Linked DNA regions of Homo sapiens. The protein of the gene in region 1 purifies or fractionates together with the protein of each later gene. This does not show direct contact. Each region holds a gene or a part of one and is shown on either strand. Other genes may lie near its edges.

Evidence for each region. Proteins that work in one complex are often made in the same cells at the same time.
Region 2: the proteins of C3orf38 (region 1) and DNAJB4 purify together in Homo sapiens (affinity purification with mass spectrometry; 3 studies listed by BioGRID and IntAct, with this or other methods). This does not show direct contact.

Annotation. Positions count from the first base shown.
Region 1 is NC_000003.12:88,152,841-88,158,579, forward strand, and holds the end of C3orf38 (uncharacterized protein C3orf38), read left to right. Parts: intron 1-389; coding exon 390-631; intron 632-3,180; coding exon 3,181-3,795; 3' UTR 3,796-5,125; downstream 5,126-5,739.
Region 2 is NC_000001.11:78,014,939-78,018,464, forward strand, and holds the end of DNAJB4 (dnaJ homolog subfamily B member 4), read left to right. Parts: intron 1-1,075; coding exon 1,076-1,309; 3' UTR 1,310-3,026; downstream 3,027-3,526. UniProt on the Homo sapiens protein: Probable chaperone. Stimulates ATP hydrolysis and the folding of unfolded proteins mediated by HSPA1A/B (in vitro).

The DNA.
Region 1 (5,739 bases):
AAATTCCTTGACATCTAAAATATTGTTGTAATTGTCCCTATTTTTAGAGGTTGTGCATGAATTTAGGACTGTTGGCCTTATTAGAAAAAATATTTTTTCTCACTTAAATGTTTTCTTAAAATGTAATTCTTTAAGAGGAAATGCTAAACTTTCACTATCACTTATGGGAAGTGAACAGAAGAGATTTTAGGTAAGGGAAGTTTAAGGCATAAAGATGTTAAAAGAAAACTGACAACGGACTTCCTATTTTTTAAAAATGATGACTATCATGTAACAGCAATAATGCTGTGACGAGAGTTTATAAACATATTTGATAGAGTTTCTGCCCACCTGGCACAAATTTGTAAGTGCCTCATGATTTTTTATTAATCTTTGCAATTTCTTTCTAGATGCTGTTCATGCAATATTAGCATACAGTCAAAGTGCAGAAGAACTTCTGAGGCGTAGAAAAGTCCACCGAGAAGTTATATTTAAGTACTTGGCAACACAGGGGATTGTTATACCTCCAGCTACTGAAAAACACAATCTTATTCAGCATGCAAAAGATTACTGGCAAAAGCAACCACAACTGAAATTGAAGGAAACGCCAGAGCCAGTTACAAAGACAGAGGACATCCACCTATTTCAACAGGTAAAATAAATCTTATGGTTGTATTCTGAACCTTTGTTCTGTCTGAAACTTTGTTGATAATCCTAGATTGTGGGGAACATGGTTAATAATGTTTGTGGGGTTTTTTTATTTTTATTTTTTAAGAGATTCTTGCTCTGTTGCCCAGGCTGGAGTGCAGTGGTGTAATCATAGCTCACTGCAGCCTTGAACTTCTGGACTCAAGTGTTCTGCCCACCTCTGTCTCCTGAGTAGCTAGGGCTACAGGCATGCACCACCATGCCTGGCTAATTTTTAAAATTTTTTGGTAGGGATAGGGTCCCAACTATGTTGCCCAGGCTGGTCTTGAACTCCTGACCTCAAGTGGTCCTCCCGCCTCAGCTGGAATTACAGGCATGAGCCACCATGCCCAGCCTATTTTTTTTATATTTTATAATTTTAACTTTATTTCATATCCTATCAATCCTGAAGGAAGGAAGAGACCAGTAAAGCAACTAAGAGCAAAAATATTTCTGACATATAGTGATGCATATATAATCATCTATTGATATGTGAGAAAGTATTTTTCAATATCAGCATCATCAAATGAGGACTATTGGATTTTTAGAGAGTAAACTGCAAGGTTAATTTTAACTTTAGCTCCGTGTAATTTTTTTTCACTTTAGAAGAATTTTATTGCAAATTCTTTCTCACTTTTAAGACGTTTTTGGTATTGCAAAAATGTCATGAAAGGAACTTAAAATTTTACTTTAAAAAAAATTTTCTTTTAAGTTCCAGGGTACGTGTGCAGGTTTGTTAGATAGGTAAACATGTGCCATGGTGGTTTGCTGCGCCTATCAACCTATCACCTAGGTATGAAGCCCAGCATGCGTTAGCTATTTTTCTTGATGCCCCCGCCCCCACATTGGAACCTAAATATTTTTTATACTTTTTTTTTTTTAACTAGAAAAAGTCCTATTGTAGAAATATTCTCCAGCGGACATTGGCTGTTTCTGTTCTTTATATTATCTCCACTGTACATTTTAGATACTGCACAAATATTTAAGTGTTGCTTGAATTAACCTCTATGTAATTTGCAGATTTTTAAACTACATACCACATTTTTTGAATTAATGAGGTTTCACAGTGAGAAAGCTTTGCCTTCACACTAGGAAAGAATCTTTAAGAGCTTTCTTACTTTATGTACTGATAAGAGCATTGACTTTGAAATCATACAAATACGACTTCAAATTAGGGTCTGCAATATACTAGGTGTGTTAAATTAGGCAAATAACCAGTGCCACGCACAGTGCCCAGTGTATTAAATAGCAGGTGCTCAGTAAACCTAAGATCTCATACATCTCAGTAAAGTACTGTGTTGTGGAACACATGGATGAATGAGATCTAGTGTATCAGGTAGATTTTTACAGTAACTTTTTTTTTTTTTTTTTGAGACAAAGTCTGCCCTGTCACCCAGGCTGGAGTACAGTTGGCATGATCTCAGCTCACTGCAGCCTCCACCCTCTGGGTTCAAGCACTTCTCCTGCCTCAGCCTCCCAAGTAGCTGGAATTACAGGCATGCGCCACTACACTCAGCTAATTTTTGTGTTTTTAGTAGAGACGGGGTTTCACCATGTTGTCAAGACTGGTCTTGAACTCCTAACCTCAAGTGATCTGCCTGCCTCAGCCTCCCAAAGTGCCGGGATTACAGGCATGAACCACCACGCCCAGCTTACAGTAACATTTTCTGTGAAAAAAGAGAAATAATAGAATAAAATTAATCCCAGTTATAGAAAATAACCTGTTTCAATCACCGTAAGAGTATCTATTTAAAGACAATGAAAATGCTTGCTTATATTAACTTTATGTCATTTATATGCAAAATGCATCCATTTAAAGTGAACGTTTTGAAGGTTTTCACATATATACCTGTGATATACATATATACCTGTGAAAACACTGCCACAATCTGAGGAAACACTTACATAAATCATCATATAATTTATATATTTTTATATATGACTGTTCATACTGATTTTTTTTTTTTTTTCACACGGAGTCTCGCTCTGTTGCGCGGGCTGGAGTGCAGTGATGCTATCTTGGCTCACTGCAACCTCCACCTCCCAAGTTCAAGTGATTCTCCTGCCTCAGCCTCCTGAGTAGCTGGGAATACAGGTACACGCCACCATGCCCGGCTAATTTTTGTATTTTTAGTAGAGACGGGGTTTCACTATATTGGCCAGGCTGGTCTCAAACTCCTGACCTCACCATCCGCCTGCCTCCTCCTCCCAAAGTGCTGGGATTACAGGCGTGAGCCACCACGCCCGCCAAGTTCATACTGATTTTTAAATTGGCCTTACTAAACCTTACTCTCTTAGCTGAATTTTCAGCAATTTAAGCTGGAAATTTCTAAAATGATTTTTCTCCTCTTGAAAAAAGATTTTTACTATGCATAATGGGTTCAGCAAGTTCACATATGGTTCATTTCTCTCTGGTGTAATGGGTTCATTCAAACTTAATAGGCTAGATAGAAAAATAGATATGAAAGTTAAACCTTAGTGTTATTTTGTATTTATTTTATTTGTTTCAATCAGCAGGTGAAAGAAGATAAAAAAGCTGAAAAAGTTGATTTTCGTCGCCTAGGAGAAGAATTCTGTCATTGGTTCTTTGGACTTCTTAATTCTCAGAATCCTTTTCTAGGACCACCTCAAGATGAATGGGGACCACAGCACTTCTGGCATGATGTGAAGCTTAGGTTTTATTACAACACATCAGAACAAAATGTTATGGACTACCATGGAGCAGAAATCGTGAGCCTTCGTTTGCTGTCACTAGTAAAAGAAGAATTTCTTTTTCTCAGCCCCAACCTAGATTCACATGGACTGAAATGTGCATCTTCTCCTCATGGGCTGGTTATGGTTGGAGTTGCTGGGACTGTCCATCGAGGAAACACTTGTTTGGGCATTTTTGAACAAATTTTTGGACTCATCCGCTGCCCTTTTGTGGAGAATACTTGGAAAATCAAATTTATCAACCTGAAAATTATGGGAGAGAGTTCCCTTGCTCCTGGAACATTACCGAAACCATCTGTTAAATTTGAACAAAGTGATCTAGAGGCCTTTTATAATGTAATCACTGTATGTGGTACCAATGAAGTACGACATAATGTAAAGCAGGCTTCGGATAGTGGAACTGGGGACCAAGTTTGAGGTAGTGGAAATGAGACATTGCTGAACAAAAGAGAACTGGGTTTACCTGACCCTCTAAAGCGCTAAGTACTGTCAGCCTGAAAAAAATCTTCTATACAGAAACTCTTCCAAATACTATATCAGTAATGTCTGAATGATTTCAGATGTGAAAATTGACATATTTTAGTTGAAATACCTTTCTGGACTACAGACTTACATATCATGTGAATACTTACCTATTTCTACCCGAGTTGCAGCAAGTATTCTGAAAGCTTAATGCAAATAAATCCCACTTTAGATCTTACAGCTAACTGTGTGCCTTAGAAACCAGGTAATATTTTCCTTTTACTTAGTGAATATTCTGCTAATATCTGCACTTTTCATGTGGGAAAGGATTAATAATGGTCCAGGCTTCCCCTCTTTAAGTTTCATGTTTACTTTTGTCTAACTCTGGATAATTGTATTTTACAAATGCATCTCACTGTAGTATATTTTTAAAACTATTAAATATTTTAGAGATGTTTAACGTAAACTCAAAGTTCTCATTTTAGAAAATTTAAATAACATTCTTTTTGCAAAAAAGTCCAATAATTTAACAGTTGAAGAAAAACTTACTACCTCTTTAAAGATTTGAGAAACATTTTTCAAAGTTATCAGCTGTAGTCCAAGCTAAATATCTTTTGTAATCTGCAACATTTTCCTTACTGTTTTTGGGCAGTGATAAATGCTGTTCTCGAAATAGACTTTATTCTTACCTAGGCTTCAGACAACAGTTTTATAGAGCAGTTACTGTAATACAATATAAAGGAAATATGCTGTTGAAATTTTAAAGGTATGCCCAGTTCCTAACTTTTAAACGAATTACCGTTCTTCCTCTTGGCTGATCTTGGCAGAGATGACAAAAAAAACCCCAAAACAACCCATGCATGTATAATGTGTGTATACACATATACATAAGTATACATATACTCCCACATTATAACTTAGAATATTTAGTTTTTTACCTGTTACTAGGTTTGAGTTACATGGTTGAGTTGCCAAATTATTTACATGCTTTGTTTAAATTCTTCATCACCTAGCAACTGTTTGCTGATCATGGATTTACTTAGTTACTTTAATTTATAAAATTACCATTTGGAAAAGAACTCAATTGGGAAATGTGATGACGTATTGTACATGTTACTTTTTCCTTTGCTATAATCATCTAGGGAGACTGATAAGAATTTTGGAAATGGGAGCCTGGAAACTCATCTTTGTTTTTTTAATGCTATGCCTCTTACGAGGAATACGAATTGGTATGTCCTAAAATAAGAACTTAATAAAGGAGGGAAATCCCTTTTGTCTGCTATAAGAATAGTGTATCGTTCAGATTTAATTTATAGTTGTGTTGCTCTTAGAGTTTTAGGCATTTAACGAGAACAAAGAAAATTTTATAACTGCTAGTTACACTGTTATTGTAATATAATTAAGTATAAAGAAAATAGTGTGCAAAATAATTTCCTCTCATATTTTTATAAAGGTACACAATCAGGTCACAAGTCCATCTTTATCCATCCTATACCTCTGCTTGAGTTTTGAAAACTGGGTTACCTTTTATTTCTTAGTTTGAAGTTTGAAATATCATTATAAAGTGTAATAGGTAAACATCCTAAGTAAAGGATAAAATTAAAAACCATTCTTGTTACTAGAGATACTCAAAAAGGGCAGGGATTTCCTCTAGGTACCTTTAGTATTAAACTTTTGAGTTCGTGTAAAGCACAAATAAGGCTGCAATTTCTGCACATAGTTTTGAATCAACCTTAAAAATGTAAAATCTTTTTGATAGTCTTGAGATTCTTGAGGATTAATGCTATTTTATTTCATGTTTATTTCATGAATCCCTAGATATGGGCACACTACAGCCTAATATTGGAGTGAATGCATTAACGAATGAGCAAAAACAACTTATATACTGTGTACAAAAGG
Region 2 (3,526 bases), on another chromosome or scaffold:
CTCTATGGAACACTATTGTTTCTTACCCTGCTCTAATACCTACCTGCTACTGCCCAATGCTTAGTTCAAGCATCCTCTACTCCCGGAATCTAAGGGGTTAAGTTGGGTGCTCTTTCTCTTACAAAAGACCTCCATGCTTACCTCTGTTCTTACACTATACAGTATTATAATGGCTAGTTTGCTTCTATGTTTCTGTGAGTTCCTTGTGCATTCCTTGAGCTGGGGTCTGTGTTCATGGTCCCTATAAGGCTCACCATCTAGCCAGAATGTGTGGCATATAGTAAATGCTCAGTAAACATTTGTTATCTAAAACAAATATATTTCTTGTCCTAATACTTTCCAGAGAAATAGTTGCTCCTATCCAGTTCTTTCTAGTCCTGAATTTCTCCCTCTTCTCCCATTCCAATCCCTGCATCTTGAATATATTAATAGCAGCTTCAAAATAACCATGTCATTCCAGGGCAATGTGGAATATATCCTTTACTTCTCTTTTACCTTTTCTTTTCTTCTTCTTTTTTTTTTTTTTTTGTAACATATCTAATAATGCATGTCCTGAAGGAATTTTCCTTTTTTTCTTTTCTTTTCTTTTTCTTTTTCTTTCTTTCTTTCTTCTTTTTTTTTTTTTTTTTTGAGACAGTTTTGCTCTTGTTGCCCAGGCTGGAGTGCAATGGCACGATCTCGGCTCACTGCAACCTCCGCCTGCTGAGTTCAAGTGATTCTCCTGCCTCAGCTTCCCGAGTAGCTGGGATTACAGGCATGTGCCACCACGCTCGCCTAATTTTGTATTTTTAGTAGAGACAAGATTTCTCCATGTTGGTGAGGCTGGTCTTGAACTCCTGACCTCAGGTGATCTGCCCGCCTTGGCCTCCCAAAATGTTGAGATTACAGGTGTGAGCCACCGTGCCTGACCTCTGAAGGAATTTTCTAATGAGGAAAAAAAATTTATAACTATTGTTATTCTTTTGGAGGTTAAAGTTTTACCTTAGTGGTATTATCCTTTACCATCTGGTAAAATTTGTGCTTAGATTTTTGAGTTTTGAAGTGTTTTCATTTTATTTTATTTGGTCCATTTTAGGCATTGTGTGGCTGCTCAATTAATGTACCAACACTGGATGGAAGAAACATACCTATGTCAGTAAATGATATTGTGAAACCCGGAATGAGGAGAAGAATTATTGGATATGGGCTGCCATTTCCAAAAAATCCTGACCAACGTGGTGACCTTCTAATAGAATTTGAGGTGTCCTTCCCAGATACTATATCTTCTTCATCCAAAGAAGTACTTAGGAAACATCTTCCTGCCTCATAGAATGAAGAACTTTGTTACACATATTTTGATAAGGCACTGAAAATATAAAAGGACTGGTAGTTTACTGATGTAGATGTGAATTCTGTATAAAGATGTGTAAATTCTTTTGAGGGTTCATTAAATTGCATGAATAGAGACGGGTCAAATAAATAGGCAAAAGGGATTTTTACAGTTAGAGATAAAAGAGAAAACCATTCACTGTATTTTATTTCATTTCTCCTGATTCAGATATTTTTAGTAATTTGCTTATATGTAAAAGTTGTTTTTGTGGAGTCAGTGGATATATTTCTAATGAAGTGCTAGACTATCCAATTACTTAATTTCTTATACCTTTAGATAATCAGTATGAAAAGTTCCCATTTATAATGGAAATGAAAATTCTTAACTAAACTATACATGTAATATGTATTTCTAGAAGAGAATAAAAACCCAAGTCAGTTATTAGATTTAAATCACCTTCTGAAATGCTGCTATAGGGCTGGTATCTGTAAAAGAATATCCTGATGCATCTGTTTCACCATTTTGATTTTTAAAGTATGCTGTAGCATTTCTTAATAACATCGTTGTGATGTTCTTAAGGCAGATCTTTCTTCATAAAAAGGAAAGTAATGGCAATTTCTCTCCTGTGGAAATCCCAATTGCTTGAATTACTGATATTTTAGAATAGACTTTTTAAAATGCCATATGTAATTTTATGCAAGTTGACTATATATCTTGTACTTAATAAATTATAGGCTCATTTTGTTCTCTGCTAGTTTAAAGTAATTCGTTTAATAATAGATGTGTTTTTAGAGGAAATGCTGTTACTTGGAATTAATTTTCCAGTTATACAGTCTTCTATAACTTACTAATAATATTCTATATGTACTTTATGTAATTTCCCTAAAAAGAATGAACTACCACTACACTATGGTGTTAAACCAAAATATAGGGAAAATAAACACTAACTGCTGCTTATGGATAATGTTGCAACTACTTGTTATGCATATAAATATTTTACTTTTTCACATGTATAGATTGCATTTCTTAGGTGTTTTAATTTTTTAAATATATTTATGTTTTAAAAATTTAGTTTTGTTTTCTGTTTTATAACTATAGTGAGAATGATGTTTTGAAGCAAAATTTTTGGTTATAAAATAGTTTTCAGGATTATATATATATATACTGGATCCTATCGCCTTTTAGTAGAATATGAAATATTCTTTTAGAAATCCAATATAAATAGGTTATAATAGCCATATTCTTTATTACTTTATTGAGATATAATTTACATGCCATAAAGTTTACCCTTAAAATATATAATTCAGTGGTTTTTAGTGATATTTACAAAGTGGTACAATCATCATCACTTTCTAATTCCAGAATATTTTCATCACCCCAAAAAGAAATCCTAAATCCATTAGCAGTTACTTCCCATTCTTCCCTTCCTCCAGCCCCTGAAAACACTACCATCTACTTTTCATCTGTATGGATTTGTCTGTTCTGGACATTTCACATAAATAGACTCAAACAATATATGGCTTTTTTTTTTTTTGGTCTGGCCTCTTTCATTTAGCTTAATGTTTTCAAGGTTCATCTATGTTGTATCACGTATCAGTACTTTATTTTTTGTGTGGCACGTCATATGGATATACCACAATTTGTTTATCTTTTCATTAATTATGGGCATTTGGCTTATTTCTACTTTTTTGGCTATTATAAATAATGCTGCTGTGAACATTTGTGTGCAAGTTTTTGTGTTTCAATTCTCATGGGTATATACCTAAAAGTGGAATTTCTGGGAGTAACCATATATTTGAGTTGCAAATGGAAAATGCTTGAAAAAAATGCCACAGAATTCAGCTAATCGTATTTATTACTCTAATTCATAAATGATTCCTCTATAACTGTCTCTCTGAATGACAGTTAAAACTCCCTACAGAAGTGTGAACATTACAGAAATTTTCTCACAAGTCTAAAGATCTAGATCTGAAAAGCATCAGTCAACGTGGTGAATGATAGTGGTTTCTGTTTTAAACCCATCATTATTTATTGCAATTTTCTTGATTAAGCATTTTCTCCCAGGTAAAATAAATGATTTATAGATAGATATATAATAATCTTTGGATTAAAAAGTTTTTTTAAGCAGAGAATTATTATTCTAGTAGTAAATAAATTTACATAACTACACAAAACCAGTATACCAGTATCTCTCTTATCTTAAAGGATATTGACAAT